2 linked regions of the Homo sapiens genome follow. The protein of the gene in region 2 purifies or fractionates together with the protein of the main gene of each other region. This does not show direct contact. Each region holds a gene or a part of one and is shown on either strand. Other genes may lie near its edges.

Evidence for each region. The genes of interacting proteins can lie anywhere in the genome.
Region 1: the proteins of LIN54 (region 2) and GOLGA4 purify together in Homo sapiens (co-immunoprecipitation; one large-scale study listed by IntAct). This does not show direct contact.

Annotation. Positions count from the first base shown.
Region 1 is NC_000003.12:37,294,934-37,298,770, forward strand, and holds part of GOLGA4 (golgin subfamily A member 4), read left to right. Parts: intron 1-45; coding exon 46-144; intron 145-1,153; coding exon 1,154-1,286; intron 1,287-3,837. UniProt on the Homo sapiens protein: Involved in vesicular trafficking at the Golgi apparatus level. May play a role in delivery of transport vesicles containing GPI-linked proteins from the trans-Golgi network through its interaction with MACF1. Involved in endosome-to-Golgi trafficking.
Region 2 is NC_000004.12:82,979,432-82,983,606, forward strand, and holds part of LIN54 (protein lin-54 homolog), read right to left. Parts: intron 1-4,175. UniProt on the Homo sapiens protein: Component of the DREAM complex, a multiprotein complex that can both act as a transcription activator or repressor depending on the context. In G0 phase, the complex binds to more than 800 promoters and is required for repression of E2F target genes.

The sequences.
Region 1 (3,837 bases), on a different chromosome or scaffold from region 2:
TTTGTTTTATACTGAAAATTACCTGTAAATCATTTTATGTTTTAGGAGCTCCAAATGGACCAGCAGGCAAAGAAACATCTGCAAGAGGAGTTTGATGCATCTTTAGAGGAGAAAGATCAGTATATCAGTGTTCTCCAAACTCAGGTAAAAGAGTAAAAGAAAAAGTGTGGAATTTTTTGGATAAAGAAAAATAGAGGGGGTTTGATTTGGATATCTGCAAGGTTGCAAAAGTTTTTTCTTTTTTAAGACCTATTTTTAAAACTTTTTGCTTTCCTCAATTTTTTTTATTTTTAATTTTTTTTGAGACAGAGTCTTGCTCTTTCACCCTGGCTATAGTGCAGTGGCGTGATCATAGCTTAACTGCAATCTCAAATTCCTGGGCTCTAGCAATCCTCCAGCCTCTGCCTCCAGAGTGGCTGGGAATACAGGCATATGCCACCACGCCCAGCTAATTTTTAAATTTTTTGTAGAGATGGGGTCTCACTATGTCGCCCAGGCTGGTCTCAAACCCCTGGGCTCAAGCGATCCTTCCGCCTTGGCCTCCCAAAGTGTTGGGATTATAGGCATGAGCCACCACTCCTAGCTCTTCAGTTAATGTTAAGGATACTTTTTTATTTATTGTATCTTTTGACTAACTGCATAATAATAATAGCAAATATAAAAACCAGCTGTATTGGGAGTAAACTTTTTATTTTGATTATTTTCCCCCACTTTAGTAAGAAGAATATCATTTAATCCGTCCTCTCTCTGTTTTAAATAAAGTACAATAAGCCATCCACATTGATGTGTTTTTGTATGTGTGGATTCAACCAACTGGATCAGAAATATTTAGGGGGTGAAAACCATGTGTAGTGAACATGTAGACTTTTTTTCTTCTCATTATTTTCTAAAATATATGTAGTACAACAACTACTTGCATAGCATTTTCATTATTTAGGTAGTTTATGTAATCTAGGGATGATTTAAATTATACTGGAGGATGTGTGTAGGCTATATGCAAATACTACACCATTTTATATAATGGACTTGAGCTCCTGCGGATTTTGGTATTAACAGGGAATCCTGGAACCAATCCCCCACAGATACCAAGGGACAATTGTACTACTCCCATAGTTTTTTTTGACTTTTTTCTAATGAAGCACATTTATATTAGGTTTCTCTACTGAAACAACGATTACGAAATGGCCCGATGAATGTTGATGTACTGAAACCACTTCCTCAGCTGGAACCACAGGCTGAAGTCTTCACTAAAGAAGAGAATCCAGAAAGTGATGGAGAGCCAGTAGGTAAGCTTCATTTTGTCAAAAGGTTAATTTAAAAACTAGAGGAGAGCCAGGCTCCTTGGCTTACACCTTTAATCCCAACACTTTGGGAGGCCAGTGTGGGAGGATCGCTTGAGTTCAGGAGTTTGAGACCAGCCTGGGCAACATAGAGAAAACCCTTCTCCACAAGAAAAACAAAAACAAAAATGAAACCCCAAGAAAACCTAGAGGAGGATTTTGAGAGATTCCAGGATGTGAGCTGATAGATATGGGCTGAGGTAGAAGTGTCCGTGGTCCTAATAGTTTCAGAAAGATGCAAGGGTTTGTTTTGTTTTTTTGGTTCTTTGTTGTTATTTAGGAGAAAATAAGTGTTTTTTGTTTGCTTGTTAGTTTGAGATGGTGTCTCACTCTATTGCCTAGGCTGGAGTGCAGTAGCATGATCTCGGCTCACTGCAACCTCCATCTCCTGGGTTCAAGCGATTCTCCTGCCTCAGCCTCCCGAGTAGCTGGGATTACAGGCACACACCACCATGCCCGGCTAATTTTTGTATTTTCAGTAGAGACGGGCTTTCACTATGTTGGCCAGGCTGGTCTCGAACTCCTAATCTCAAGTAATCTACCTGCCTCAGCCTCCCAAAGTATTGGGATTACAGGTGTGAGTCACTGTGCCCAACCAAAAAAGTTGTTTTAATATGCAAAAATTTCATAGTCTGTAACACCACATTTTCATTGTAATTGAAATTCATTTATTATGCTACACTGTTTTATTAATAGCAGTAGCTAGATTTCATATGAACAGGTCAGTTCTGCTTACATGCTAATAAGTGGGCTATTTGTAATTGTTTGGATATTTTAGTTTTTAAATATTGCTTAAATAGTTCTATATTCATAGATATTTGTATTTGTCCTATTAATTGCTTTTTAACTGGAAAAAGAAGAAATAGCTATATTTTGTCTTAAAATTCAGTTACAGCCTTCTTTGCTTTGAGGCTTGAGGTATATACGCAATAAAATTCCCGTCTTTTATTTCCTAGCTTTTTCTTTCAAAGGGACTTATGATAAACTTGGAGTAAGTAGTTGAGCAGTTAACTATCTGAGCAACCAGACTATGGTGGGGTGGTGGGGCGGCGGGGCCAGTCCCGAAATTCCCAGACATGTGGAAACTTCAGACTCATAAATGTAAAGAGATGGAGAAAGTTGCACTTACCAGAACTCCTCTCAGAAAGAGATTAGAATGTGGTTGGAAAGAATACCGTACTTTATTAATCCTTTTGGGAGGTGAGCTAAGACACATAATTTTGAATAACAAAAGATGATTATCAAACTGTCATTTTAAGGAGGGTGGATTCAGTTAATGTTAGTTAACTACTGTGCCATTCTGAATGGGGTTGAACCTCAAAGAGGTGAATTACTACTAAGCTTCTTCAGATAAAGATTAAACAACTAATACTAAGTAGAGGTTTGGAAGGGTGCCAGTTTATTAGCTGACTAGGGTTGTCCCTTCTTCATCTAAGAGTATAGCAGAATATTGGTGTAAGAATACACTCCTGGTGGGGCGTGGTGGCTCTCACCTGTAATCCCAACACTTTGGGAGGCTGAAGCAGGCGGATTGCCTGAGGTCAGGAGTTCGAGACTAGTCTGGCCAACATGGTGAAACCCCACCTCTACTAAAAATACAAACAAGTTAGCGAGACGTGGTGGTGTGCGCCTGTAATCCCAGCTACTTGGGAGGTTGAGGCAGGGGAATTGCTTGAACCAGGGAGGTGGAGGTTGCAGTGAGCCGAGATCATGCCACTGCACTCCAGTCTGGGCGGCAAAGCGAGGCTCCGTCTCAAAAAAAAAAAGAGGGAATACACACCTGTGTAGTAACAGACTGTTCCTGGAAGTGTCCTTATATTTGTAACCGCCCAAAGGGTTCACCTTGCCCACTGCCTAGACAGAGCTGATTTATCAAGATAGGGGAATTGCAGTAGAGAAAGAGTAATTCACGCAGAGCCGAGTGTGCACGTGACCAGAGTTTTATTTTACTCAAATCAGTCTCGCCAAGCATTCACGGATCCGAGTTTTTAAGAACAATTTAGTGGGTGGGAGGAAGCCAGTGAGCCAGGAGTGCTGATTGGTCAGGTCAGAGATGATATCATAGGGAATCAAAGCTGTCTTCTTGTGCTGAGTCACTTCCTGGGTGGGAGCCACAAGATCAGATGAGCCAATTTATCGATCTGGGTGTTGCCAGCTGATCCATCAAGTGCAGGGTCTGCAAAATATCTCAAGCAGTGATATTAGGAGCAGTTTAGTGGTGGTCAGAATCTTGTAGCCTTCAGCTGCATGACTCCTAAATGATAATTTCTAATCTTTTGGCTAATTTGTTAGTCCTACAAAGGCAATCTAGTCTCCAGGCAAGAAGGGGGTTTGTTTGGGAAATGGCTTTTATTGTCTTTGTTTTAGACTATAAACTATAAACTAAGTTCTCCCAAAGTTAGTTCAGCCTACACCCAGGAACGAACAATGACAGCTTAAAGGTTAGAACCAAGATGGAGTCGGTTAGATTAGATCTCTTTGACTGTCTCAGTCATAA
Region 2 (4,175 bases):
GCAAAATATAAATAAATACACATTAAAGGTAGGCTTATGACTAGATTTTCAACTTTAGATCTAAATATCAGGAGTAGATTAAGGGAGAACTAAATAAGTTAAAGCCCTAGGGTACAAAAGAGAAAAATTTGGTAGAACAGAAACTATTATAAGGGCAACAGCTCTGAAATATTATTTACTAAACTATTATGTACTACACTTTTCTTCTTTTAAAGATGGGGTCCTGGCCAGGCGCAGTGGCTCACGCCTGTAATCCCAGCACTCTGGGAGGCTGAAGCAGGCAGACACTTGAGGTCAGGAGTTCAAGACCAGCCTGGCCAACATGGTGAAACCCTGTCTCTACAAAAATACAAAAATAAGCAGGGTGTGGTGGCGCACACCTATAATCTTAGCTACTCGGGAGGCTGAGGCAGGAGAATTGCTTGAACCCGGGAGCAGAGGTTGCAGGGAGTCGAGATTGCACCACTGCACTCCAGCCTGGGTGACAGAGTGAGTGAGACTCTGTCTCAAAAAAAAAAAAAAAAAAAAAAAAAAATACTGGGTCTCATCTCGTCACCCAGACTGGAGTGCAGTGGTGCACTCATAGTTCACTGCAGCCTCAAACTCCTGGGCTACAGCAACTGTTTATTATATTTTAAATTCCTTGAAGAGAGAAACTATATTTAATTCATCTCCAATTTGAAGTTACATATTGGCACACTGTTGACCTGAATTATAATTCTCCACAAGTCAAGGAGTGTAGAGTTACCAATTTTTTATATTGCGATTATCACCATATACAAAGACACAGCTTCTTCTAAAAGTTAAAAGAAGAAATTTACCTGGGATAAAAATCAAAGAATTTTAGAGTGTGAAGAACATTAAATATTAATTATATCTTTTGGCAATGAAAATTGAGACTGTAAAAGAACTATTTATTATAGGAAATAGTGACTCAAATGAAAAAATATGACCAACATGAATAACAGAAATACACCGGAAGTTATGATAGATCACAGAACTAGACAAATATTAGCTCTTTGTGCTCAAATTATAAATTAAACTAAATAACACATCTTACACCTACAATATATTACTTTTTTATACTCAGAGCACATTACTGACAAAAACCAACTGTATATAAAATACAAATCACTTAAAAAAAAACATACCCATTATTGTATTTAAAAACGGCCGACTTGCAAAACTATAACATACTCAAATAAATCTATAATTATACTCTAGAAAGCTAATGAAATTTAGAGAAATACAAATTTCTCAAGTATGTTTACAGACTTAAAACCCTAAAGTCAGTCAAAATTGTATCTATTGTATCTATAATATTAACAATCTCTAGAGGTAGAAGTATTAATATTCTTAGAAAGCCATATTAGCAATAAATAACCTTAGCTATAACAATTATGGGCTTAAAGTATTTCCCCATTTTAAACTGATTTTTCACAATCATGAGTATATGAATACTTATCAGTAAGAAAAAAATATAAACAGTACAACCAGAAGCACATTAATTATTCAAATAAACAATCTCATCTTGCCCTTGTGGTTATGTTTCTTTAGTGGTGCTGAAAATAATAACTTTTGGTTCCATTAAGGAACTATGATTTTTTTGCACTATGAATTCTAAAGTATCCTGGAACAAAATTATTAAGTAAAACAAAGCATCAAAGATTACTTTAACAAGTTTATAGAATCAGCAGCTTAAGATAAACATGAAAAAAAACTTACAAATAAGGTAGTAAAATATGTCATCAAATAATATATACAAGTAATTTTTGGCACTGTGTTGGATAGATTCAGGAGCTAGTAAGGAGTTATATTGTTCCAGACTGCTAGTTATGTACTACTCTTATATACTATGCACAGGAAACATGGGAAAGTGTTTATATATCTGTTATTACATATAATTATACCTCTGTTACTGCCTCTGGCTTCAAAGGTCACCTCTTTTCTTCATTTTTCAAGATGGCCTCCATCTTCCACCGTTGCCTGCTATCTATACCCTAACAGTCTCAATACTCTGACTAAACTTAACACTGACAACTACCTAGGGGGAAAAAAACCAGAAAATCATATACTCTTTGTAATACTAAACCAAATATTCTGGTGTCAAAAAAGGAAAAAATATAGATGCATAGTTTTTAATTTGTCTTTTGTGCTTCAGAGCTTTGAGGTTACTTCTGAGATGGAAAGACTTAAGTCGCCTAAAAATAATGGATTGTACAAGTAAAAAAAATTCTAAATCTAATTCCTTTTTATTGTTTTTTTTAATAGAATTCTTTTTTATTAGATAGAAACAGGCTTTAGAAAACTAACAATAGCCCAGGTGCAGTGGCTTATGCTTGTAATCCCAGCACTTTTGAGAGGCCAAGGCAGGTGGATTGCTTGTGTCCAGGAGTTTGAGACCAGCCTGGGCTACATGGCAAAGCCCCATCTCTACAAAAAAAATACAAAAATTGGCCAGGTGTGGTGGTTTGCATCTGTAGTCCCAGCTACTTGGGAGGCTGACGTGGGAGGAGCATTTGAGCTTGGGGGGTCAAGGCTGCAGTGGAGCACCCACTGCACTCCAGACTGGGTGACAGAGAGACCTGTCTCAAAAACAAAACAAAACAAAACAGAAAAGTAACAATAAAACAAGTTATAAGAATTAGACCCCAGTCTTTTTTTTATTGTCATTACTTAGGGAGTTAAAGTAGAGAAATAATAGATACAAGCAACACTGGTCATTGAAATGTCACATATACCTTGCTCTCATAAATGAAAAAAATGACATTCTAATTTATGATATCTTTTCCTTTTTTAGTTTATTTTTATTTTTTTGAGACAGGGTTTTCCTGTAGCCCAGGCTGAGGTGCAGTGATGCGACCACAGCTCACAGCAGCCTAGACCTCCCCGGCTCAAGCGACCCTCTCACCTCAGCCTCCTGAGTACCTGGGACCGCAAGTGTGCGCCACCATGCTGGGCTAATTTTTTGTATTTTTGGTAGAAACAGGGTTTCACTATGTTGCCCAGGCTGGTCTCGAACTCCTGGCCTCACAGAATCTGCCCACCTTGGCCTCCCAAAGTGTTGGGCTTACAGGTTCGTGAGCCACCACACCTGGCATCAGTTTCTTTTGAACATAATTATGATCCATATTGCCAAAGCCAAATAAACTTTGGTAAACCAATAAAAACAAGCTTCAAAACTGAGGACAAGATGCTTGATGGTGATAAGATATCTCATCCAAGAGATTCTTGGCAAAAATAAGAAGTAAAAGGAAGTCATAGATAAGTGAGAAGTAATAATGAACAAGAAAGAGCACTAAATGTTTAATAATGGCAAAGGGGACAGAGGCAAATTATAAGATTTAAGAAATTCTACAAAGTTCTTAAATGCAAAGCCCATGAAAAGTGGTTTCTAATTCTACTGTCAAAACAGTAACCAAAACATTACTCTAATATCAGCTGAGTGTAGTCTCCCAAAACCTTCCTACTTCCTTCTTATGCATTTCCTATTATTTCTATGCATTCAAAGACAACTCTTTCAAACAGAGGATACATTTTTGTTTCCTGGTCATAAGTATATCACTGCATTTCTTGTTTTTTTTTTTTTTTTTGAGATGGAGTTTCGCTCTTGTCACCCAGGCTGGAGTGCAATGGCGCGATCTCGGCTCACTGCAACCTCTGCCTCCCGGGTTCAACCGATTCTCCTGTCTCAGCCTCCTGAGTAGCTGGGATTATAGGCACTCGCCACCATGCCTGGCTAATTTTTTGTATTTTTAGTAGAGATGAGGTTTCACCATGTTGGGCAGGCTAGTCTCAAACTCCTGACCTCAGGTGATCCGCCCACCTCAGCCTGCCAAAGTGCTGGGTGGGATTACAGGCTTAAGCCACCACGCCCCGCCGATCACTGCATTTCCAAGAGTAGTGGTGGCCTAAGAAAGCCTATTTGGGCATGATAAACTGGAAATCACTTAATATATATTCCAGTAACCTTCTTTCTTAGGGTCCTATTCATACTAATAATAGGTACCATTATGAAACATCCTCAATATTTTGAGAATTATACTACACATTTCATCTTGATCAAAAAGTATTCTTAAGATAAAGTCAAAAACTCAGAGAAGATAAGTAACCTACGAAAGTTTTCCATAACTGGTAGGATAAGATAGAGGCAACTCAAGCCCAGTTGGTACAAC